7 linked regions of the Homo sapiens genome follow. The protein of the gene in region 6 purifies or fractionates together with the protein of the main gene of each other region. This does not show direct contact. Each region holds a gene or a part of one and is shown on either strand. Other genes may lie near its edges.

Region 1 (3,500 bases), on a different chromosome or scaffold from region 6:
TAGAGTCAACAATACTGTACACCTGAAATGTGCTAACAGTAGGTCTCAACTGCTCTCACTACACACACAAGCAACAAGGTGAGGTGACAGATGTGTTCACTAACTTGTGTGGTAATCATGTCACAATACATACATGTATCAATTCAGCACTTTGTACACCTTTGTTACAATTTCATTTGTCAATCACACCTCGATAGAGTTGGGAAAAAAATAAGTAAAAGGAAATGCAGAACCGCAAGTGAAAAGGAGGCCCATGAGCACTTAGCTAGGCGAAGCCTGTTCCCCTGAACACTCTTAAGACCCTAGAATTCCATGTTTATTAGTACGTATGTCACAAACATGTCCTCATGTCAACTCTTTCCACCAAATGTTGTTTCCCCCACACCCCTGATTTCATCTGCCGTCTCTCCCAAATTCACATTCTCCATCCCAATCCCAGCCCTGTCATACACATCACCTCCTCCCTTCTGAGTTTCTGGAAAGACCACTTTCCTCACAGGCATGTCCTCCTCCTCTGTCTGGTCTCAGGGCTTCTCTTATGGACACCTCCTCCTCACTCTTCCATGGAGCTCAGCTCAGCTCGGGCTCCAGAGCTGCTTTCCTAGTTTGGTGTCTAACAGCTCTGGGTTCAGTTGTCACTTGTTGACCACCTCCCTCATCTGTGTCTTGGAGACAAAGCCTTGTCCTTTTTCTTTTATGAGACAGGGTCTTGCTCTGTTGCCCAGGCTGAAACGCAGTGGCCCAATCATGGCTCACTGCAGCCTTGACCTCCTAGGCTCAAGCAATCCTCCCACCTCAGCCTCCCAAGTACCTGGGACTACAGGTGGTGTGCCACCAAGCCTAATTTTTTATTTCTTGTAGAGATGGGGTCTCCCCACATTGCCCAGGTTTGTCTCGAACTTCTGAGCTCAAGCTATCTTCCTGCCTCAGCCTCTCAAAGCGCTACGATTACAGGCCTATGCCACCACACCAGGCCCAAAGCCTTTTCTTCTTCTAGGCTGTGAACTCCAAATGGCACCCTACAGGGTCCAGGACAAGAGACTGTAGCCCTAAAGGGCTTGGGATATGTAAAATAGCACGTAATAGTAAATAATAACTGACACTCTCAGGGGGCTCCTCTGGGGCCTGACCCCATTGTCAAGAAACCCTTTTCTAAGGTGGAGAAATCAGGCTGATGGGAAAGCCGCAGGAGGCCAGCTTCTTACCTCATAACTCTGCCACCAGTTGGGGATGTTGGGACGCAGCTTCTGATCACATACAACCTTTCGCATTTCCTCAATGGAAGGGTCAGAGGGCACTAAGTCGTAATATGGCAGCTGATATTCTTCATGGACTCCTGGGAGAAAAGAAAGTATCTACCTGAGTTATCAACAGCAGGAAAAGATTACTCAGAAGCCGGTGACAAAACCTACACTGTGCTCTGTAAATACCACTACCCCCTAAGGTTCCTTAGAAAGTTAGTTAATTCTAAGTATGGAACAAGAAATACACAAAAGGGGCCGGGCATGGTGGCTCATGCCTGTAATCCCAGCACTTTGGGAGGCCAAGGCAAGCGGATCACCTGAGATCAGTAGTTTGAAACCAGCCCCGCCAACACGGTAAAACCCCATCTCTACTAAAAATACAAAAATTAACCAGGCATGGTGGCAAACACCTGTAGTCCCAGCTACTAGGGAGGCTGAGGCAGGAGAATAGCTTGAACCCTGGAGGCAGAGGTTGCAGTGAGCAGAGATCATGCCACTGCACTCCAGCCTGGACAAGAGTGCAAGACTCTGTCTCAAACAAAACAACTAAACAAAAAGAAATACAAAAGAGTAGCCAGGAACATTTTTTTTCATAGCCAAAGCAAGGAATCTATCAAAGACTACTGGGGGTCACATCAAAAGGCACCAACTTGATAAGCTCCCAACTGAGCAAAGATGGGAACTTTTAAGTAACAATAAGACAAATAACTTCAATGGAAACAAATATTTTTAAAGTCTAAAAAAGGAAATTTCAGTCACCTACCTCTGTGGGAGGCTACAGAACCACCTCATTATTTTGAAAAATGGTAAATAAGTGGAAAGAATCAAGTATTTTTTCTGCCTCTCCTATTCCAACTATATATCATGGGAACCAAATACATATGTAGGGGAAGTAATCATTCGCTTAGTTTTGGACAATATCACCACGGCACGTTAACGACACAAAAATAGAGAACCAATGCTACGCAACTTGTCACAGAAGGACAGAGGAACCCCTGTGAAGGATACGTGTCCCCGAACCCCCAGAAATGATTCTAGCTGCCAGATCTAACTACCAATTCATAGGAAATACCAGGAAGAGTAGAATATGTGAACTCTACCTAAGCAATCTGCAAAATCTAGCCTGGGAAATTCTACAGGACAAATGACCTGGATTCTCCGAAAAAACAGAGTGGGAAGAAAAAATGAGGGGGAACATGTAGACAAGAAATGTAGGAGGTGTATTCATCAACTGCAGGGGATAAAACTTATTGGAACCCCGATTTGAACAAACTGCTTTAAAAATTTAGGAGACTGGGGAAATCTCAACACTGACTAGATGTTAAGTGACATTAATGTTTGCCAGGCACAATGGCTCACACCTCTAATTCTAGCACTTTGGGAGGCCGAGGTGGAAGGATTGCTTGAACACAGGAGTTCAAGACCAGCCTGGGCAACATGGCAAAACCCTTGTCTCCACAAAAAATACAAAAATTAGTAGGGCATGGTGGTGCACCTGTAGTCCCAAGCTACTCAGGAGGCTGGAGTGAAAGGTTCCCCTGAGCCTGGAGAGGTGGAGGCTACAGTGAGCTGTGATCACGCCACTGCACTCCAGCCTGGGTGACAGTGAGACTCTGTCTCAAAAAAAAAAAAAAAAAAAAAAGCACTAAATTTGTGTGTGTGTGTGTGAGTTTCACTCTTGCCACCCAGGCTGGAGTGCAATGGCGCAATCTCAGCTTAATGCAACTTCCACCTGCCGGGTACAAGCGATTCTTCTGCCTCAGCCTCCGAGTAGCTGGGATTACAGGTGCCTGCCACCATGCCCGGCTAATTTTTGTATTTTTAGTAGATTCGGGGTTTCACCATGTTGGCCAAGCTGGTCTTGAACTCCTGACCTCGGGTGATCTGCCCGCCTCAGCCTCCCAAAGTGCTGGGATTACAGGTGCGAGCCACCGCACCTGACCCCTAATGTTCATTTTTTTTTCCTTTTTTGAGACGGAGTCTCCACTGTTGCCCAGGCTGGAGTGCAGTGGCACGATCTCGGCTTGCTGCAACTTCCACTTCCTTGGTTCACGTGATTCTCCTTCCTCAGCCTCCCAAGTAGCTGGGACTACAGGCGTACGCTACCATACCTGGCAATTTTTTTGTATTTTTAGTACAGACGGGGTTTCACTATGTTGGCCAGACTGGTTGCAAACTCCTGACCTTGTGATCAGCCCACCTCGGCCTCCAAAAGTGCTGAGATTACAGGCATGAGCCACCGCGCCCGGCCTAATG
Region 2 (3,500 bases), on a different chromosome or scaffold from region 6:
CCGAGCCCTCCTCTGTTTTGATTGTGGTATAACACGCACCACCTAAACAATATAATTGTACCCATTTCTCAGCACACGGTTCCGTGGCACTCGGCGCATTCACTGCCGTGTGGCCAGCACCACCCTCTAGCTCCAAAACTTTTCCTTTTTTTTTTTTTTTTAATCTAAGCTGCTTAGGGGTTGGATCGTGCACTGATACTTCTCTCAGCTGTGAAAGACACGGGGTACAAACCCCCGCCCAGCAGGCGGTGCTGAGCAGGCGCTGTGTCCCGCCGCCCACCACCGGCCCCTGGTCCTCAGGCCAGACAGATGGACGGACGGAGGCTGCCCCAGGCCAGCGGGAGGCTGTGGCTCTCTAGAACTCTGCAGCCCACAGTGTGGCTGGGGGAGAAAGGTATACCCTGGGGGTGGAAGAAAGTTGAAGTTGATGTCCTCAAGGGGACAAAGGGCCATCTGCACCAGCCACGTGAGGCCACCGCACTTCCCCCGCGGTGTCCCGTACATAGTTCAGAGCTTTCTGAAAGCTGGTGGGAAAGTCTAGACTCACTTTACAAGCGGTTCCTGGATGGGCGGGTGGCTCACGCCTGTAATCCCAGGACTTTGGGAGGCCAAGGCGGGCAGATCACCTGAGGTCAGGAGTTCAAGACCAGCCTGGCCACCATGGTGAAATCCCGTCTCTATTAACAATACAAAAATCAGCCAGACGTGGTGGCAGCTGCCTGTAATCCCAGCTACTCGGGAGGCTGAGGCGGGAGAATCACCCGAACCAGGGAGGAGGAGGTTGCGTTGAGCCGAGATGGTGCCATTGTACTCCAGCCTGGGTGACAGAGCAAGACTTCATCTCACACACACAAAAAAAGTGTTTCCTCAGAGAGGAAGGGACTGAACTAAGCCCTGCAGAGGCTCCTGCGGCCGAGGACACCCCCGGGAACCCAAGCAGAGAAAAATCGCCTTCTAAGCACAGAGGCCCCCTGCACCTCCTGTGTGCAAAGCCTCGAGACAAGGGCTCTACATGAGTCACCTCCTTTTGTTCTGACAGTAACCCCCCAGGGTAGGTACGATCATAACCCCCCTCTTCAGATGAGGAATGCGAGGTTCAAGGTTCAGCAAAGTTAAGTGACTTCCCCAAGGCCACACAGCAGGGAAGCCAGAACAGGCCTGAGCCCCCCTCGGAACCCTGCTTCGGAGCTGGCAGAGTCGTGCTGGGGCGGCGCGGGCCCCCAGTAGGACTCTAGGAGCTCATCCTGAGGCTCCCTCCCTCCCCCGGGCTCCGCAGTCCCCTCAACCCCTCAGCAGGGCTGGGAGCTTGCTCCGGCCTCCCCCAGCAGGAAGCTCAGAGCAGCCACTGTCCCCAGGCTTCCCCCACCAGCTTGCCCAGCCCAGTCCCTGTCCTGTGCCAAACACCCTGCCTCACTCAAACTCCCCTCCCACCAACCACAGGCGGACGAGGGGCTGCCCTGTCCTTTCCTCAAAGCCTGGGGCAGGTGTCGCTGTGCCAGACCAGGACACAGTCACACGGACCCCAAATCCAGGTCCTGGACTCCTTGCCTCCCCGGGGAGCAGGGGCAAAGCCAAGGTTGCCGGAAGCCTGGAGCTCAGGGAGCCCTGCTGGCCACTGCCAGGCGGGTGACTTGTGCCAGCTTTGCCCAGCAAGGCAGGAGGCCCAGGGAGCAGCCCAGCACCCAAAACTAAGTGAGGCTGAGCCCAGACTGGGCCCTTCTGGTGGCATCGGAGCAGTGGGCTCCTGCTGAGGGAAAGCCCAGGTGCTGCCTCAGTCTTTTTCAGGAGCCCTCAGACTGGAGTCCACTGGCCTCGAGCGAAGCCCCGTAAGAGACCCCTCTGGGGTCTGCAGGAACCCAGCCTCCTCAGACCGCCTGAGCTCAGCCCCCAGGCACCTGGGCTGCTCCCACACTCAGGCTCTGGGCCTGACGGGGATTTGGATCCCATTTCCCTTCTTCCCAGCTATGGCCTCGGGCAAAGCATTTGACCTCCCAGGCTCTTGTGGAAGGGTGTGCAGGCTTACATTCTATGAGGCGGAGACACCCGGGGCACCATCGGGCCAGGGCAGGACCTCCACCAACAGTGGCTGTGATGGGGATGACTAGGGGGTGGGGGGGAGGGGGGGAAGAATCCAAAATGGGTGGGGCCGGGCACGGTGGCTCATGCCTGTGACCCCAGCACTTTGGGAGGCTGAGGCAGACGGATCACTTGAGCTCAGGGGTTTAAGACCAACCTGGGCAACAGAGCGAGACCTTGTCTCAAAAAATAAAAAAAAAAGTCCAAAGTAAATCGAAGCAAAAGGCCCCTCAATGTGCCTAAGCCCCCAATCCCACCAGCACCTGGCTCAGGCAGCTGGGAGGCGGTTCTAGGTCAGGGCCCAGGCCACTGGCCAGGCTGTCCTCGTGGAAGGCCACTCGCTGACCCTTGCCTTGGTCCTGGGCTGGGACACTCCCAGGAGACCCAGCAGCTCTCTGAGCCAGGACTTGCCCATCTTCAGCTGCGTGAGCTCATTCAGGGCAGCCCCCTCCCCCTCTGCTGGGGCTCGCTGGGGCCACCGGGGACAGGGACCCCAGTGAGGAATCTGGTGTTTTCCGACAAGTGTCATCCAAGCTGCAGCACAAGGCGGGATGGGTCCATAGGGGTGCGGGGTCCAGCCCACACAAACACCCGGATGTGGGGGGTCCCCGTGACTCCTCAAAGCGGATGTGTAGGAGTGCAGGTGTGGCGGGCGGGAAGGAGGTGGGGCCAGAGAAGCCCTCCCATCCCTCAGTCAGGACAGCTCCAATTTCTGGGCCTGCACAGAGACACCTGGAGCGCTCTGGAGGACCAAGGTCACGGTCTCCCTTGGGACTAAGACCCCAGTGCTGTGGTGACACAGGGCCCCCGATGGCATCTGTCATCACCGGACATCTGTCAGAGGACCCGGGACCATGCACTGGCCGGCAAATCTGGGTCAAACCTTGCCCGACATCCCAAGTCCCCTGTGCGTTCTCCCCACACTGGGCGTGTGGTGTGGGCACGTGCTCCATGGGGACAGGAGCCTGCCCTGCAGCCAGGAGCTGCCACAACCACTAGGTCCCGGCCTCCAGATACCAGCAGAGCGTGGGGTTCAATTCGGGGAGCATCCTTAAGAGGAAGAGCACCCCTTTTCTGTCTGGGACCCTGAAAATGGTGGGAATAGAGGTCAAAGGAGCCGGAAACTAACTGCTGTTTCCCTAGGCTGCCCATCTGGTCTCCTTTGCTGTATGAAAAAGTAAACTTCTCTGTGGATTAAGCTGCTGTCTTGAGGGTTTTCTGATCCTGTAGCTGAACCCAGCTGTAGGACACGGAGCCGCTCTGGGCTTTGCTTTCCTCTGTCGAATGGATGTACCAGGGCATCGGCCCCTGGTGAGGAAACGTCCCCTGCAGCTCCACCGTAACTGCGCACACAGGGAAGGGCTCAGGGGACACCCCCTGCCTGGAAGGGGTCCGTGGTCTCAGCCCCAAGCCCGGTGGGAACG
Region 3 (3,500 bases), on a different chromosome or scaffold from region 6:
GGGTGAGTGAGCATTACCGCCTGAGCTCCACCTCCTGTCAGATCAGCAGTAGCAATATATTCTCATAGAACTCTATTGTTAACTGCGCATGTGAGGGATCTGGGTTGCGTGGTCCTTATGAAAATTTAATGCCTGGTGATCTGAGGTGGAATAGTTTCGTTCTGAAACCAATCACACACGCGCTCATGCACACACACACACAGGCACAATTTTTCCAATCATGGAAAAATTGTCTTCCACAAAACCAGTCCCTGGTGCCCAAAAGGTTGGAGATCACTGCAATAGGTGATGTTGGGACAACCAGCTATCCATGTGGGAGAAAAATGAAATTGAAAACCTATTTCAGTCCAAAACCCCAAATCAATTATGAATAAATGAATGCCAATGAAACAGTGCCCAATCTTATTAATAACCAGGGAAATGCAAATTAAAATGAGATACCACTTTAAATTATTAAACAAAAATTAAGACCTTTGACAATAAAAAAGTTGGAAAGGGTGTGAAGCAGCAGAAAATCTCTTACATTGCTGGTAGGTATGTAGATCATACAATCACTTTGGAAAAGAGTTCTATATTACCTAGTAAAATTTGAAATGTATGTATATCTATGAATCAACAAATCCAATACTGGATAAACTTTCAAAGGTACACCAAGAAACTGATTAAAAATTTTCATAGCAGCACTGTCTTACTTGTTTACTCACATATAAACAAGTAAAAATGAAGAAAACAGTTACATATAACACAAGAATGACTCTTAGGAAAATTTTTTAGTAAAAGGGGATTTTCAAAAATAGGTTAAACTAAACAATATAATGTTTGGCAATAATACATATGTGGGAAAATTAATTCTTTTAATCAAATGAATGGCATTCAATATAGTGGTTACCACTGGGGTTGTGACAGTGAAAGAACGTATTTGTGGTTTCATGATTTTTAAAAGATATTTATATTCTTATTGAGAGTTTCTCTCTAGATAAGTATTTCTTTTGGGTCTTAAAAACTTCTATGATCCACAAGGGAAATGCCACTAAAGTAGGCACATTCTGTAAGTTACTGGTAGATTTACACTTCTCACTTTTCATAATTTTCTCCCTTTTCATAACTGAGTAATCAGTACAATTCCCTACTTGATTTGTAATAGTCTTTTACAGGATAATCATTTAATGGGGAGATGTTTATTTTTAATAACTGAAAAAGTAGGAGCCCATATAATTCCAAAGTGGTCTTAAATGGATTCTATCCTTTGATTTGCAGTAGTTTTACTTATCTTACTAATTGCTTAGAATAATATTAAATGACTTATTTAGAATGTTAAAGGTAGTTTGCATTCTCTGAATATGAATACCCACTAATTAATGTAGAAAAGCAAATTAATCACAAGGAAAAAAAAACAAGCTTGAATAAAAACTATTCATTCAATAAAAGCTTGGAAAGATCTGAGAGCCCAACAATGAAAAAGGAGTTTGTGGTCACTATAGAAAATAACTTACCTTTAATGGTAAAGAGTTAAAAATCTAGTGACAGTAATATTTGAATGAGACAAAGCCATGTAAAATTTAGTAGCTACAAATAAGATAAATCCTACCTGAGAAAGGTACATCTCTAAGAACAGTAGGAGCCCAGCCCCTCCAAAGGGAAATCCAACCATCTTCAGATACTTTCTTGCTGACAAATCGATGCAGTTCCACGTAAGAAAACTTCTTGGACTGCATCTTGGTTCTAATCAATTCTAGTGGACTTATCACAGTTACTGCACCAACTAATACAAACAAGTTAAAAAAAAGAAAACAAAAATAAAGCCATGTACTATGCAAACACATATACTGTAAAAATTAATATTCACAGATTTTATATTTTAAACTTTTAGTCTATAATGTCTGAAAACCTTAAAATTAAATGTGTCATGATGTCAACATAATTGCCACAGATTTTTCCCTTGACAAAGTATTTCTTAAAAATCTATTTTCATATACTTTACTTTTTCTGGTTTCAACTCTCTCAAGGGCAGTTCCAGAAATGTTATAATCAACCAGAACTATGAAAACCAAAGCCCATTCCAGTTACTGCCCCAATAAATCCCACTCCCATTTAGCAGAGTAAACGTTCTTCTGTATAGAGTCAACGTTCCTTATGATAAAACTCTGAATCCCAAAGTTTATAAGGAAAGTGATTCAGGACTTTGGCCTGAATCACGCATGATCCCAGATGACACCTCAGAAGTTCAGGTAAATCAGAACCAACTCTGATGTCACTCTAAAAACTCTGTCCATGATTTGACCAAAATAGGCTGAGCCCATCTCATTCTGATGGTAATCACCATTCCATATGACTTCTGGAGTACCTATACTATATTAACAAATTAATATAAACTATAATGCAAAATATATCATACTAATACTCTATATATTATACAAATTATCTGTGAATGTCACAACTTAAACAGAAGCTCTAAACAGAAATCAAAATGAAAATAAAGATTTATTACTCACATCTGGCTACAATTCCAGCAACAATTGGTATGCAGGTTTCATTTTCTCCTAACTTAGATCTCAGAAGAGCACTTAATTGATCATAGCAGGTAAAATAAATAACTGTGGCAGGAACTGCCATCACTCTGTTAGATCACACAAAAAGATTTGTTCAAAATTATCAAAAGATCCCACATAGTCTTAACTTAAATTCAAATATTATTATATAAGCTAAAAAAGTCTTATATTTTGTGTAAGCTAAAAACTACAATAAATCAGCCTATGAGATCAATTTTTCTTTTAGTTTAAAAATGATTAGTACTTAACTTAGTAGGCAGTAAAAAGATATAAAGTAGGCATTTGCCATCCAAAAGTTTTCATTCCAGTTGTAAAGACAGTTACAATAAATAGCATTAAGTAAGCGCTAGCATGGTGGCACATGCCTGTAATCCCAGCTACTCAGGTAGCTGAGGAACAAGAATCACTTGAACCTGGCAGGCAGAGGTTGCAATGAGCCGAGATCGTGCCACTGCACTCCAGCCTATTTAGGGACAGAGCAAGACTGTCTCTAAATAAATAAATAAATAAAATAAAAATAAAACAAATAGGAAAAGACAAATTAAGACAGACACTTCATCTCCATCTCTGTTTCTGGTCTCCCAGATCTTCTTTCTCATTCATAATTACCATAACATCAGAATCAGCGAAATAAAAAGTACGTGAGAAATTGTAAAACATTTTTGTACTGTGGACCATATATCACTCCTGCTTATAACTAGACATAAATTATAATTAACATCATCAGAATTACATACACTAATTTTAAGGGAATTCTAATGACATACTATTTTAAAAGAAATTATTAAAAGGGAATTATTAAATTCAAACACAAAGTTGCAGGTACTGCCATGTCAATAAATATTAGTGCAACAAGAAACTAGTCCATGTTTATGATGTAACTAAAGGACATTCACAGACTATAAATTGGAATGCCTAATGTTATATGGTGGACTTTGCTGCTGAGAATTT
Region 4 (3,500 bases), on a different chromosome or scaffold from region 6:
AAACAAAACACACCACCACCAACAAAACCCTGCAAGTACGGTGATTTAGTGTTTGTTGTGCCACCTGGGAGTGTTGTACTGAAAACAGTAACTGATTTAAAGAAACTGAGTATGTAACATATGCAGTGACCCACAGAGGCCAGTTTAAAGGGTGCATATGGAGAAACTTCATATCTGGTGCAATAGTGAAAAGGTGTGGAAGCAAATTTATTACAGGGGTATGTGATGAAGGGGCAAAGTGGAGTCACAGGCTTGAGTTTGGTCTGTGTCAGCACTTCATTACACGGAAGTCAGAATAGTCCCCACACCCTCATACACACCCTCATTTCATAACCATTGGGGCGAGGGGGTGCGGTAGACCTACTTTGGAGTGTATGGGTCTCTGAGGTGAGTCATACAGCCAAAGAGGAACTGAACTAGTGGATCCAGTGGCCGTGGGAATAGCTGGGTTGCTGGTTTGTCCTTTGTTTTGAAAGTTAGGGTTGTGGGTGCAAGTGCGGTGGCATGTGAGCTTTTCCCTTTCTCTCTTTCCTTGGTGAATGGCTCTTCTTCCCCAAGGGTTGAGCCGCCAGCTCCCAGAACAATGTCAGTATGGAGGGTGTTTCCTGAACCCGCAGGGCAAGACTTCTCCCTCCATAGAAGATAGCTGGTGTAAACTGAAGTTCTCTTTGATTTTCCTGTCTTCTTCCATCCTTAGATTTAGACTACTCTGTAAAGTTACAGGATACAGTGTTGATCTAGCTAGGTCTGAATTGAGATGCGGGCTCATGTCTCACTCTTTATGGAAAACGGTTCTTGGGAATATTATTTCATTGAAACTTGGGAAATGTCCATTGAGTACATTTCTAGATGTGTCAGGAGTCTAGAAACTTCAGTTTGGAGAATAAAACTCTACTTCCCTCACATCATTGTTCATACTGTTTTGGTTTTTATTATAATCTTCTTTATGGATATAATTCATATGCCATAAAATTCACCCCTTTAAAGTATATAATTTAGTGGGTTTTAGTGTTTTTATAGGTTGTGCATACACTAAATGTGATGGTTATCACCATTGTGTAATTCGGAACATTTCATCACCCCAAAAAGAGAGTCACTCCCTACTCTTCCCTCCCCACAGCCCTAGGCAACTACTAATTTACCTTCTGTCCCTATAGATTTGCCTATTCTGGACATTTTATACAAAGATAATTATATAATATGTGATCTTTTGTGTCTGGCTTCTTAGCATAATGTTTTCAAAGTTTGTTTATGTTGTATCATGTATCAGTAGTGCCGCATCCCTTTTTATGGCTGAATCTTCCCTTGTATGGATGTACCACAGCTTGTTTATCACTCATCAGTTGATGGATATTGGGATTGTTTTCACTTTTTGGTTGTTAGGTATAATGCTGCTGTGAACATTCAGGTGTAAGTTCTTGTGTGAACATACATTCAGTTTCCATGGGTGTATGGAAGTGTATTCCTGCATCAGTTCACACTGTTTTGAGGTTACTTGGGTTTGAGCCACTCCAGAAACAGGAATGGAATAAATGACATCAAGATTCCTTTGTGCTAATGGAGCCAATGCCAGTAGTCCCTCCAGCCCCAGTCAAAGGCACAGAAACTGGTTTTGTTTGTTTGTTATTATTATTTGAGACAGGGTCTCACTCTGTCATCCAGGCTGGAGTGCAGTGGCACGATCATAGTTCACTGCAGCCTCCACCTCCCGGGCTCAGGCGATCATCTTGCCTTAGCCTTCTGAGTAGCTGGGACTACAGGCACGCACCACATCCACCTAATTTTTTAATTATATTTTTCTTAGAGACAGGGTCTTGCTATGTTGCCCAGGCTAGCCTTGAACTCCTGGCCTCAAGCAATCCTCCCGTCTTGACCTCCCAAAGTGCTGGGATTACAGGTGTGAGTCACTGTGCCCAGCAAAAACTGTTTTTAATGGTGAAATAGCGTGCTAATCAGGTTGGATGATAGAGTCCTGGAACAGAAGGCCAGAGGCCTGAACTGTGCCATCAGTCTTGTGTGCAGGAAGTTGCTGTCTCCTCTGGACCCCATGTACAGGAGGACATGAGCTGACTGAAGAAGGAACGCTGGAGCAGGAGCCAGCAGCCTGGGCTTGGTCCCAGCGCTGCCACTGATGCATTGTGTGGCCTGGGGCAAATTACTTTGGCTTCATTAGTCTGTTTTCCACATATGTCATGTGTGAAATTAAGGTTTGTACTTGATGATTTCCAAATTCTGAGTTGAAAATTTTGTAGTTTGGAATACTTTAAGGTGAGTTTTGCTAATATGCCTATAAAATCAGACTTATTTTGTTTTTTCCATGATGATGGTCACTGTGATCTTTCCAAGCTGTTGTGTTGGTTGTATTGTCTGTCTGATCACCCAGGTTTCCCCACCTGGCTCATGTTCTGCAGGAGCTACTGTGTCCTTGGAGCTGAGGTGCTGACATCGGGCCTTGGTTAAATGTGTTTCTCTGAGGGGTCCCTTTAAAGGAATGCCCTTAATCCCCCTCAGGAAGTACAGAGGAGGTTGGGATCACATTAAGTTGCCTCTTAGTTTCTGTTTTACAACTTGGACAAACGTCTCCCTTTGATCTTGGCATTAAAGAAGCACGTCAGAGAATGTTGGAGAAGGCTGAGTTTTGATCTCTGGGCACTGGCAAAAAGGTGGGAAGGACCCAGGATGAGAAGAGCCATCTGGCCACGGATGAATAATAGGAGCCACTACCACCTTCAAGCCTGCTTTGATCCCTGAACCATTTGCTGACACTAGAGTTTCCCAAATGGGGCATGGATGGGGACACCCAGGACTTCTCAGTTCCATCTCATTCCTTTTCATTGCTTCCTTCTCTCCCTTCCTAACATGGTTTCTCACCTATGCCTGATGCTTTAAACCAACAGACCTCCCAGGGTTTGAAATCCTCTTATGCTTGGTCTGAGAATCTGGGCTAGACTCCCAGCTCTGACACTGTGATTACTTTTGTGACTTTGGACTGATTGGTTATGTGATTTTGGGAAAACCGTTTGCGCTTTTAAGCCTCAATTACCTTATATTAAAATTTTTTATTGTGGTAATAACAAAACCTACCACTTTAAGCTTTTTTTTTTTTTTTTTTTTTTTTGAGACAGAGTCTCACTCTGTCGCCCAGGGTGGAGTGCAATGGTGCGATCTCAGCTCAGTGCATTACTGCAACCTCTGTCTCCTGGGTTCGAGCGATTCTCCTGCCTCATCTTCCCAAGTAGCTGGGACTACAGGCATGTGCCACCACGCCTGGCTAATTTTTGTATTTTTAGTAAGGATAGGGTTTCGCCATGTTGGCCAGGCTGGTCTCGAACTCCTGACCTTGGGTGATCCACCTGCCTCAGCCTCCCAAAGTGCTGGTATTACAGGCATGAGCCACCATGCCTGGCCCACTTTAAGCATTTTTAAGTGTGCAGTTCAGTGGCATTAAGTACGTTTACACATATGCAGCTGTTAGCACTATCCGTCTCCAGAACTTTTTC
Region 5 (3,500 bases), on a different chromosome or scaffold from region 6:
TGCGTCCACGTAGCTCTGCAACTTGTTTCGCATCTCTTTCTCGTTAAATTTGGCACTGCGCTTTACATAGATTCCTCCATGCTGCCACAATCAAATCGGGAGAAAGAGCATTTACTTTTAAAATAACAATTGGCCAGAGTCATCAAAAAGGCAACTTCTCTTGCAAAAAGTACAGAATGAAAACTACATTTCAGAATTTAATCTATATTTAATATCTTCAAACATTAGCTTCTAAAGAACATTTAGCTGAAAATTGCCTTGTCTCAACATAATTCAAAAAAACTGCATGTGACACTGTATTGGAAAACACATGAAGTTTAGTTTTGTTGGCAGTTAAAATGAAAATGCTTTCTTTCTTAAATACACATTTTTAAAAATAAAAAACCTGATCCATCAGATGGATTTAACTCCCAATTCTTCCACCCACTTATTACAGAGTCACTAAAAAGCGTCCTTAACATGTCTCACGATCTTTAGGGATTTTAAAAAATCAATCCTGCTAAAGATATTTATGTGGCACTGTTACGGACAGAAGTGTGTTCCCCCAAATCAGTCTACTAAAGCCCTAATAGTTCCCACTGTGACTGTATTCAGAGAGAGGGACTTAGAGGTGGTAATTAAGGTTAAAAAAGGGCCTCAGAGTGGGACCTTAGCAGTCTCTGTAGAAGGATTAGTCATCCAGTGTAACTAGTCCTTCTAAGAAGAGGAAGCAGTGCCAGCGGTGCTTGGGCACAGGGAAAAAAACCACCTGAGGACACAGGAAGAAGGATGCTGTCTGCAAGCCTGGGAGAGAGGCCTTGGGAGAAACTAACCCTGTCAACACCTTGATCTTGGATGTCTAGCCTCCAGAACTGGAGAAAGTAAGTTTTATATATACAGTTTGCTTTTTTTTTTTAATATCATACAGATCACTAATTACTGTTATCAACAGTTTAATGTAATTGCCTATCAAATTCTATGCCTTTAAATTTCCTATTTGTTTGAACTTTGTACATTTGCATTTTTGCTCTTTCATTTTACTGCAGCTGGCCCTTCACATCCATGAGTTCCACATCTGCAGATTCAACAAATCACAGATCAAAAATATGTGAACAAATAAAAATTAAAAATAATATAACAATTAAAATAATACAAATAAAAAATAAAGTATAACAACCATTTACATGGCATTTATAATGTATTAGATATTATAAGTAATCTAGAGATGATTTAAAGTAGTGCACAGGTTATATGCAAATACTATCCCATTCTATATGAGGGTCTTGAACACCTTAGATTTTGGTATCTGTGGTGGTTCTAAAACCAATCCCCACAGATGCTGAAGGAAAACCGCATATGGATAATCAGACGTATATAAATACACACCACTAAAAATGCCAAACAAAATTACTTCAACTGAGAATAAACTATTAAACCCATTTTAAAAACCATACATTCACATGAAGTATATTGTTAAATTTTAAAATATAACATTTTTATAGGGTTGGGTATGGCAGTTCACACCTATAATCCAGCATTTTGGTAGGCTGAGACAGGCAGATTGCTTGAGTCCAAGACCAGCCTGGGCAACACAGCGAGACCCCCATCTCTACAAAAAATAGAAAATTTAGCCGGGCATGATGGTGGGCACCTACGGTCCCAACTACTTGGGAGGCAGAGGCAGGAGGTTCACTTGAGCCCCAGAGGTCAAGGCTGCAGTGAGCTGTGTTCACACCACTGCACTCAGCCTGAGCAATAAAGTGAGACTGTCTCCAAAAAAAAAAAAAAAAATTTATAAACTACATATATAGAGAGAAAAGCATGGAAACAAGTTACCTGAGCAAAGTAACACCCATACAATGGCAGCCATTTTAACCCTTCTTTCAGCACGTAGCGCACATGTCCTAGCGCATTCTGCCTGATGGCCAAGATGTCAGCAACAATCCAGTCAACTGCAGAGACAGGACCCAGTTAGCGCGTACATGAGGCTCTTCACAGGTTGTACTATGAATGGGCTTCAAAAGTACTATGATGGCCGGGCGCGGTGGCTCACGCCTGTAATCCCAGCACTTTGGGAGGCCGAGGCGGGCGGATCACGAGGTCAGGAGATCGAGACCATCCTGGCTAACACGGTGAAACCCCGTCTCTACTAAAAATACAAAAAATTAGCCGGGCGAGGTGGCGGGCGCCTGTAGTCCCAGCTACTCGGGAGGCTGAGGCAGGAGAATGGCGTGAACCCCAGGGGGCGGAGCCTGCAGTGAACCGAGATTGCGCCACTGCACTCCAGCCTGGGCGACAGCGAGACTCCGTCTCCAAAAAAAAAAAAAAAAAAAAAAAAAAAAAAGTCCTATGATTAGGATGTTTAAAATTTCTTTAAATCTATCTGAGATATTTAAAAAATATACATTTTCTGTTTTTTGAGCTTTTTTTTTTTGCATTTCTTGAAAGGCTTTTTATTTCAAAGATAAAATACAGTCACAAAATACCTAAATAATCCAACAGCAGCATGTGTATGGAACAAAATGAGCTTCTCTAAATCCTAAAGTCTAGAAAACAAAGTTTTTTTAATGAGAAAGGGGAAATTATAAACAAAAAATGGCCAAATGCAACTATGAATTGCCACTAAATATTCAGTGTGTATATATATGTTCAGCAAAAGGCAAGGACACTTCATCTTCTACTAATGAGTTTTTAGGACTCGGTACTAGGTTAGGACAGCAATCAAACAAAGGTCTCACATGCCTTACAATGATGCTGGGTAGATATATGTGCTCCTTATGTAACCAAGTAAAATGATCTCAGACTGCTAATAACTATAGTTAAATAAATATGTTATTAACAAAGGGTTGCAAAAACAAGGGTAAGATGGTATGAATTGATAACAGTAGCAATAAAAAACTTCCTAGAAGTTGTTAGTTGAGCTTTCAAAAAGAAAAAATTTCCAACACAGAGAGTGGCCCTTGCCAATTAAACAAACAGGAAGTGGCAAAGTGGGTGCAGAAGATGGGAAACAGAGGACATGGTTTAAAGAGGAAATGAAGTGAAATTCAGGAGACAAATGATACAGGTCTTAAGAACCGCAGAAACTTGGATTTGAAAGTAAATGGCTACAAACTATCTCCTGATGAGAAAGAAAACATAAAAATGAAATGTAAGGGAGACTTCTCTAGTTAATACACACATGAGCTCAACGATACTCGAAAAGAAAACTGTTAATCTGTGAAAAGAATAATTCTATCATCACCCATGTTCTCAGGCCATGAAAATGAGAACAAAAGGAGTGAGTCAGAGGAAGGAAATGTTAAAAAAAAAAAAAAGTCTGTAGAAAATAAAAGCTGAGGATTTAGAGGAATTACAATAAAGTTTTAGCCAAAGAGGACAGTTTTCCACAGATTACAAGATGATTAGCTCTCAGCTATGGGAAATCTATTAGACAATGCACCATACTAGTCAGAATATCCCAAAAAAGATTTAGCCATTTTAATACTAAAAATTAACCAAGAAAAATCTCTTATCCATTA
Region 6 (4,209 bases):
GCAGGGTCTCTGATCCAGAGAAGTGGGGCCCGGTAGAGACAGGCTGGATGGCTGAGCTGGACGGATGCTCTGGTAGGAGTCAGCAGAGGCCCTTCCTTTAGTTCAAGTCCAGGTCGACACTGCTTTGGCTGCTTGGGTGGTAGGCAATGCTGGGGCCGGGACTGTCCCGGGAGGCTCTTCCCCACAGCCCCTGCAGGCACCTTTGGGCGGCTGCCCTCCAGGGGGCTGTGTAGCGCTGATCGCCCAGCCCCATGGCTACGGGCACTGCCGCTGCACTGGCACTTCCTAGGGAGAGGAGGGACAACAGTGTCCCAGGCCCCAGTGGCGGGCGCTGCTCATAGGCCAGGACTGAGAGGAGCAGTGTGGCCACGTAGGGCCCCCAGCACAGCCCGAAGAGCAGCATGGCTCCAGCCTGTGCCCTTGCCTGCCTCCAGGTAAGGGCCCGGGCCAGGGCGGAGGGCTCATCGCGGCACACTGCCCGCTCCAGCCGGCAGATGTCCTGCAGCTGGCGGTGGGCAGTGGCCAGCACGCGGACAGAGAGGAAGGCAGCAGCACCCACGGCGGGCAGCAGGAGCCCATAGACTTCGAGGTACAGGTAGGGGGCTGGGAAGATAGCCTGGGAGCTGCAGTTGGCACCAGGGGTCCAGTGGTTCCACCCCAGAGCGGGCAGACTGGCAAAGAGCAGGGGACCAGCCCAGGTGAGGAGCAGGGCCAGCCGAATGCTCCCAGGGGGCTGGAGTGGCCTCAGGACTGCCATGTAGCGCTCCCCGTGCACCAGCAAGAGGTTGGCAAGCAGGGAGAGGAAGGAGAAGTTGGGAGCCAAGTAGACGAGGAGGCAGGACCAGTAACCCCGGCGACTCTGGTTCCACAGCCCTGGCAATGTGGGCAATGCCAGACCCGTGAGCAGCCCAGCCAGCAGTAGGCTCAGGAAGAAGCAGCCAGCAGGTGGGCTGCGCAGGCGGCGGTCCCAGGCGATGCCCAGGGCTAGGAGCAGGTTCGCGGTGATGATGAGGCTTGCCAGGGCCAGGGAGAGCCCCAAAGCCCCCTTGGGAATGGGGCTGGGCACCTCGCCAGTGCTGTTGGGCGTCATCTTGGTCCTGGGGACAGGGGAGTCCTGGAGCGGCAGCCGGCATGCCTGCAGGATGGGGTGGCCAGAGTTAGGATGGGGCTGCAGGTCGTGTCCTCCTGGCAGGGCAGCATGTTAATCCAGGGGCGCAGACCCGCAGGCTGTGGGCTGTATCATGTTCGCTGATACACAGAATTTTTCAATTAATTGCCAATTAAACATTTATATAAAAAACTATCTTTGGTTTCTATTGAAAATTCAGGTCTGGCAACACATATGTCCTGTGTGGTAGCAACCAGCCGGAGCTCACTGCTGGCTGCCCTTCGGACAGTCCCCACCCAGCCAGCTTTATCCATTTCTGGTATCTGCCTTTTCTGGGCAGCTGTGTTGAGGTCTCTTGTTTAGACTGAAAGGCGGGCCCATCCAGCCCCAAAGCATTTTGTGTATCCCTGCCTCCACCGGGGAGGCCTCTAAATGAGAGAATGGACCAGGGCTGGCTGGTGTGTAGTGGTCTTCCAGCCAGCCATTAGGTGACAGGCTCCAGCGGGCCAGGTCTCGGGCACCCTGCACCCTTCCCCCCATCTGTCCTTGTAGCCATCACAGCTCAGTGAGCAGCCTCCGGGTAGGACTTCCAGCCCATAAACTTGACTCGTCTTTGCTCCACACTAGCAACAGGGTCCTTCCTGGGAGCTGGAGGGAGGAGAGAAGCAGCTGGAGGGCACGTGTGGCAGTGAACGTGGAGATGCCAGCAGCAAGGAGAGGGACTCCCCCACACCCCCAGGCCTGAGGCTGAGCCCAGAGGAGAGGGAAGAGGAGTCTGGGCAGAGTCTGGCTTCTCTGTGGCTCTCATCTGTCCCTGTCCTTCCCGTCATTCCCTGGTCTCAGTCCTCCAGTGTCATGGCTCTGCTGCCACATCCTGGGGACAGGGGGAGGGGTCCTGGGTCCTGTGGGAACTCCTGCTTCTGTCAACAGGGGAGCAGCTGCTGTTGCTAGGATCCAAGTCAATAAGGAAAGGATTCATACCTCTCCCCTCCTCCAGGACAGGGGATCAGGGCCCCATGGCTGCCCTGAGCTGAGAGGAAGGAAGATGCTCCCCTTCCTTCCCAGGTTCCCCCAGCACCCTGAGCCTGGGCCTCCAAGGCCTTATGCCCCCTTTCCCCTCCCCTAAGCATGTTTTCTCTTTCTCAATCTCTTCCAGTGCCCTCCACCCAGGATGTCTTTTCCTCTCTAGAGGCCTTGCAGTTTCTGTTCCCTTTCCCAGGGCATCATCAACTCTCTTAAGTCCCGTGAGACTCAGGGTCCATTACCCCAAACCTGGCCTGAGCTGGAGCTCCCAGCCCTAATCGGAATGATTCCCCCCAACCCACCTCCACTAGAACAGCGACAAAGGCAGGGAGCAGCCCCCAGGGGTGATTTCCCAGCAGGGTGCAGGCTGTACCACCTGCACACCCCCGAGGGTCTGGTGGCTTGGGCTGGGTGTAGTAGCCTCTCCAGGATCTGGGGTTTGGGGGTTTGGGGGAGTAGCTACTCACATGGCTGTTGGGAGCAGGTATTGCCTGCCCAGCCTGGGCCTTCCTGAGTGTCAGGGAGTTGCTGCAGCCAGCCCTGCAGCGGTTTGGACCATGTCTGGTGTCCTGGCTGAAGAGCACAAGTGGACCAAGTGCATGGTGTCTCCACCCAGTGGGGACAGCGGGGCCAGGCTCTCCTACCCAGGCTCTGCCCGTCTGGGTTCTCAGAGGGATAGAGAAATGAGGCTGGCAGGACTCAGCCCTGGCCCCGCCTCTGGGAGGGTGGGACCTGACATATTCCAAACTGCAGCAACTGGGAGGCCTGCCTCCCCCTCCCACCCAGTTCCCCTCTCCCCCTGCCACCTAGGTGGCAGTTTCCCTACTCCAGCTCGGAGTAATCTGAGAAATGCATTCCAGTTAATGAATAATAATGATTGACTTACCCCTCCCGACTTCCCGCCTCAGCTGATGCATTTACATTTAAGCCCCTGGACTGGCCAGCCAGCTGACAGCACACCAGGCTCCCTCCACACTTCCGTGTGTGATGGTGGCAGTGGCAGGTGTTTGGGGCCTGAGGATCTTCACTCCCCCATCCCATCACCTGATGGGCCTTTCAGTTTCTAAGGCCAGACTTGCCTTCCTGAATCTGGGGTCATTCCACACTTTTCTCAACTGCTTTCTGAGTCAAGTTCTGAACTATGAGGGACAAATGGCTCTGGGGATGTGACCATGGGTAAGGTACTACTGGGCCTCGGTTTTTGCCTGTGTTAAAATGGGAACAAGAAAAACCACCTCTAATTAAGGTCGTGGTGGGGAATATCACAGGATAACACATATGGCGGCATATACCCCAGTGCATGGCCCTTGATGGGTGGGGGTTTGCCCCAACAAATGGCTCCCTCTCTTTCCTCCCCCATGATGAAGAGGCATGAGCTGGCGCTGGAATCAGAGCTGTCTGGATCCTTTTTTAAAAAAGCCAGTGAACTTGGGCAAATGACTAAAGTTCCCTTGCCTTAGTTTCCTCATCTGTCAAATGGGGCCCATAGTTGTACTCACCTATCGTGAGACTAAATGAAGTCCCGTGTGATGAGGACTCAGATCAACACTTGGCCCTTCAGCACTCCGCGACAGGCAGCGATCGCTGGGAACATTATTAGGATTTCTGCCTTTCTCTGCACCTGGCCCCTCTAAGACAGATCTGCTGAGAGGGGCGCATGGGGAGCTTGGGAAAAGCAAGAGGGGAGTGACACTCTTGCTGCACAGGGAAGCTGAGGAAACCAGATACATTGAGAGGGAAGGGCAAGTTCAAGGCTGGGAAGCCAGAAGTGGTGCTTTGATTTCCACCTTGTATCAAGTGCGGCTTTGGAGTGAGGGGGAGGAGAGAAGCCCAGCCACACTCCCTTAAGGCCTGAAATGGGAGGGAACAGGCGGAAATTGCAGCAGGAAAGCTGGGACTGGGGGTGAGACATTAGGAAACACTTGCTGGCTGAAGAGCGCAAGTAAATGGAGCAAAGGGACTCTGGTGCTCTCCGGGAGAGCTGGGCCTGAAGGGCTGGAAGCCCGTGGAGTGTGGCTGTGCCAGCTCTGCACAGCCAGTCAGGGATCCTGGAGATCAGGGACTTCTGTTGGGACAAA
Region 7 (3,500 bases), on a different chromosome or scaffold from region 6:
TACAGTGGCGTGATCTCGGCTCACTGCAATTTCTGCCTCCCGGGTTCAAGCAATTCTCTTGCCTCAGCCTCCCGAGTAACTGGGACTACAGGTGCACACCACCACGCCCAGCTAATTTCTGTATTTTTAGTAGAGATGGGGTTTCACCCTGTTGTCCTGGATGGCCTCGATCTCTTGACCTCATGATCCACCCACCTCAGCCTCCCAAAGTGCTGGGATTACAGACATGAGCCACCATGCCCGGCCAAATGGATTCCTTTTTAACCTTCCTTTCTGGATGTCTATCTACTGCCTTCAGGGTAGCTTACCAGTCCTTTGTCCTGGAGGCACATCATCAGTGTGCACACATCTCCTGTTGCCTGATGATTCACCAACATCACTGCTTCATCTTTTGAAACTGCTTTAATATCTTCTCCCCATTCCATCACTGTAAGAACAAAAAAGTTTCAAAGCTGTCATTTTAAAGATTTTTATATTATCACAAACCTTATATTAGAAAAAATGATGTATATTAATGATGATATGTCACCTAGCTAAAACATCCGAAAGTTTAGAACTAAGTTTATTTCCTGTGCAAATCAGAATGTTAATATAACTTTTATAGAGCCCCCAAATATACATTAAAATATAAAATTATCATTATTTATTTATTTATTTATTTATTTATTTATTTATTTATTTATATTTGAGACAGAGTCTAGCTCTGTCACCCAGGCTGGAGTGTAGTGGTGCGATCTTGGCTCACTGCAACCTCTACCTCCCGGGTTCAAGCAATTCTCCTGCCTCAGCCTCCCAAGTAGCTGGGATTACAGGTGCACACCACCACGCCCAGCTGATTTTTGTATTTTTAGTAGAGATGGGGTTTCACCATATTGGCCAGGCTGGTCTCAAACTCTTGACCTCAAGTGATCCACCTGCCTTGGCCTCCCAAAGTGCTGAGATTACAGGCGTGAGCCACTGTGCCCAGCTATGGTCATACCTTTGATCTAGAAGTTCTATTTCCTAGAATTTATCCTACAGAAACTTGTTCAAATAAGCAAAGATATATGTATAAAGAATGTTTATCACAACTTAAATGTTCACCAACAAGGGAATGGACAAGAAAATTATGATGTAATAGGAGAGTATAAACCCGTTAAAATAATGGAGGATATCTCTTATTCACTAACCCAAAAAAGATGTATTATCAACTAACAAAGCAAATCACAAAACAGTAAATATAGCATGATCCCATCTTTTTAAAGCAGGAATACCATCCATGTGTTGTTCAATGCACTGAAAAACGTCTAGAAAAATAAATTTCAAACTGTTAATACCGATCATCAATGAGAGGTGGTTCCCAACCCTTCAGATTCTATTTTATAAGAAAACATTCAGACATAATAATGCATACTTTCACCTTAAAATAATAAAACTAATACAAATGCCAAATTATTTGAAGTTATCAGATGAAAAGTCACTGCGCCAAAATCTATACGTACATTCTAAGGGAAACAGTGGTATTTCTATGTAGTTATGCCTCATTTCATTTTATATTTATTTTTAACTTTTTTGAGACAGGATCTTGCTCTGTTACCTTGGCTGGAGTGCAATGGTGCAATCACAATGGCTCACTGCAGCTTCAAGCTCCCTGGGCTCAGTGACCCTCCTACCTCAGCCTCCCAAGTAGCTGGGACTATACAGGTGCATGTCACCAAGTCCAGCTAACTTTTGTATTTTTTTTGTAGACACAGGGTTTTGCCATGTTGCCCAGGCTGATCTCAAACTCCTGGGCTCAAGCAATCCACCGGCTTCAGCCTCTCAAAGTATTGACATTACAGACATGAGCCACTGCACTCGGCCACCTCATTTTACAGTAAATTTATGTCAAGCCTCAGTTTTCAAACATCAGAATTCTGCAAAGAATCTTCTAGCATTTTTTGATATGAATTATCAAAGGCCAATTCTACATTAGTATTCTTTACCCTAACCTTATCTCACTCACTGCTGCAAGGAAAGAATTCAAGCCACCTGTGTGTAAAAGCTCAGGATGAAATAGGGATAGGGAGACCTGTTTAGAAGCCAATTTTGCACTATATTTCAAAATTAATAAATGCACAAACCTTTTTACCTAGGAATTCTACTTCTAGAAATGCATCCTACAGATATACTCATTTATGTGCAAAATGACATGTACACAAGGCTACTCACTGCAGCTTTGATTGTAAAAGCAAAGATGAAAACAACTAGAAAGAGAAGCTAACTCAAATTCATAGAAATGGTGGTTGCCAGGGGCTGGGGGAGGGGGAAATTGTTGTTTAATGAGTACAGTGTTTCAGTTTTACAAGATGGAAAAGTTTTAGATATCGGTTCCACAACAATGTGAATATACTTAACAAGACTGAACTGTACACTTGAAAAATTAAGATGGTGAATTTTATGTTAGCGTATTTTACCACAATTAAAAACATTTTTAAGGGAGACTACCTAAATAAATTATATCTATGCAATGGAATATTATGCAAACATAGCACTTATGTACTAAGATGAAATGATATACTTTAAGTAATAAAAGCAAAGTGTAGAATAGGATGATGGATGCCACTAGTTGTGTTTTTTGTTTGTTTGGTTTTTTTGTTTTTGAGACGGAGTTTCGCTCTTGTTGCCCAGGCTGGAGTGCAATGGCGTGATCTCAGCTCACCGCAACCTCCGACTCCCAGGTTCAAGCGATTCTCCTGCCTCAGCCTCCCAAGTAGCTGGGATTACAGGCATGCGCCACCACGCCCGGCTAATCTTGTATTTTTAGTAGAGACGGGGTTTCTCCATGTTGGTCAGGCTGGTCTTCAACTCCCAACCTCAGGTGATCCGCCCACCTCGGCCTCCCAACGTGCTGAGACTACAGGCCTGAGCCACCGCGCCCAGCCTAGTTATGTTTTTAAAAAGGACAGAGAATATACTAACCAAATGAAAACTCCCCATATGCCCCTGTTGACAACCCTCCAATGGAGACACACGGACATACAAACACACAAACACACACACACATGCACAACATTCTTTCATTAATACAATCTTCATTCAATAAATCAGCATCAGGCATGGTTAGGTGTTGTGGATATAAAATAAGTAAGAACATTTCAAGTATTATTCTAAAGTGAACAGCAGTTAAAACTCAAGAAAAGTCTAGCTTGGTTCTATAAATAGTGGGCTATTAAGAGGTAATGTGGACAGTTTTCTGGCTCTCCATCTGTATTAATAGATGTCTCATCACCAAATAGTCCTTTAACGCAATCTGTGCTACATGAGTGGAAAATACTAGATACCTAGGCCCATGCAGTGGGAAGGCATATATGTCAATATAACTGCAAATAAGAATAAGTTTTTACATAAAATATATCTTACCTGTTTGCTTTATATAAATCAGATAAATCTAGTAAGTGTGACTGGTTTAAATATGAAAACATAAATTGAATTTGGAACCCTCTGTACTGGGTTGAACAGTATACTCCAAAAATTCATGT

Evidence for each region.
Region 1: the proteins of GPBAR1 (region 6) and ACVR1B purify together in Homo sapiens (affinity purification with mass spectrometry; one large-scale study listed by BioGRID and IntAct). This does not show direct contact.
Region 2: the proteins of GPBAR1 (region 6) and AGPAT2 purify together in Homo sapiens (affinity purification with mass spectrometry; one large-scale study listed by BioGRID and IntAct). This does not show direct contact.
Region 3: the proteins of GPBAR1 (region 6) and SLC25A40 purify together in Homo sapiens (affinity purification with mass spectrometry; one large-scale study listed by BioGRID and IntAct). This does not show direct contact.
Region 4: the proteins of GPBAR1 (region 6) and TM9SF4 purify together in Homo sapiens (affinity purification with mass spectrometry; one large-scale study listed by BioGRID and IntAct). This does not show direct contact.
Region 5: the proteins of GPBAR1 (region 6) and AGPAT5 purify together in Homo sapiens (affinity purification with mass spectrometry; one large-scale study listed by BioGRID and IntAct). This does not show direct contact.
Region 7: the proteins of GPBAR1 (region 6) and LPGAT1 purify together in Homo sapiens (affinity purification with mass spectrometry; one large-scale study listed by BioGRID and IntAct). This does not show direct contact.

What each region holds. Positions count from the first base shown.
Region 1 is NC_000012.12:51,989,699-51,993,198, reverse strand, and holds part of ACVR1B (activin receptor type-1B isoform a precursor), read right to left. Parts: intron 1,337-3,500; coding exon 1,206-1,336; intron 1-1,205. UniProt on the Homo sapiens protein: Transmembrane serine/threonine kinase activin type-1 receptor forming an activin receptor complex with activin receptor type-2 (ACVR2A or ACVR2B).
Region 2 is NC_000009.12:136,680,958-136,684,457, forward strand, and holds part of AGPAT2 (1-acyl-sn-glycerol-3-phosphate acyltransferase beta), read right to left. Parts: intron 1-3,500. UniProt on the Homo sapiens protein: Converts 1-acyl-sn-glycerol-3-phosphate (lysophosphatidic acid or LPA) into 1,2-diacyl-sn-glycerol-3-phosphate (phosphatidic acid or PA) by incorporating an acyl moiety at the sn-2 position of the glycerol backbone.
Region 3 is NC_000007.14:87,845,361-87,848,860, forward strand, and holds part of SLC25A40 (mitochondrial glutathione transporter SLC25A40), read right to left. Parts: intron 2,618-3,500; coding exon 2,493-2,617; intron 1,763-2,492; coding exon 1,589-1,762; intron 1-1,588. UniProt on the Homo sapiens protein: Probable mitochondrial transporter required for glutathione import into mitochondria. Glutathione, which plays key roles in oxidative metabolism, is produced exclusively in the cytosol and is imported in many organelles.
Region 4 is NC_000020.11:32,112,714-32,116,213, forward strand, and holds part of TM9SF4 (transmembrane 9 superfamily member 4 isoform 1 precursor), read left to right. Parts: intron 1-3,500. UniProt on the Homo sapiens protein: Associates with proteins harboring glycine-rich transmembrane domains and ensures their efficient localization to the cell surface.
Region 5 is NC_000008.11:6,729,142-6,732,641, reverse strand, and holds part of AGPAT5 (1-acyl-sn-glycerol-3-phosphate acyltransferase epsilon), read right to left. Parts: intron 1,932-3,500; coding exon 1,816-1,931; intron 82-1,815; coding exon 1-81. UniProt on the Homo sapiens protein: Converts 1-acyl-sn-glycerol-3-phosphate (lysophosphatidic acid or LPA) into 1,2-diacyl-sn-glycerol-3-phosphate (phosphatidic acid or PA) by incorporating an acyl moiety at the sn-2 position of the glycerol backbone.
Region 6 is NC_000002.12:218,259,606-218,263,814, reverse strand, and holds the start of GPBAR1 (G-protein coupled bile acid receptor 1), read right to left. Parts: upstream 2,801-4,209; 5' UTR 2,599-2,800; intron 1,757-2,598; exon of another isoform or gene 1,136-1,756; 5' UTR 1,091-1,135; coding exon 98-1,090; 3' UTR 1-97. UniProt on the Homo sapiens protein: Receptor for bile acid. Bile acid-binding induces its internalization, activation of extracellular signal-regulated kinase and intracellular cAMP production. May be involved in the suppression of macrophage functions by bile acids.
Region 7 is NC_000001.11:211,792,764-211,796,263, forward strand, and holds part of LPGAT1 (acyl-CoA:lysophosphatidylglycerol acyltransferase 1), read right to left. Parts: intron 428-3,500; coding exon 309-427; intron 1-308. UniProt on the Homo sapiens protein: Lysophospholipid acyltransferase involved in fatty acyl chain remodeling of glycerophospholipids in the endoplasmic reticulum membrane.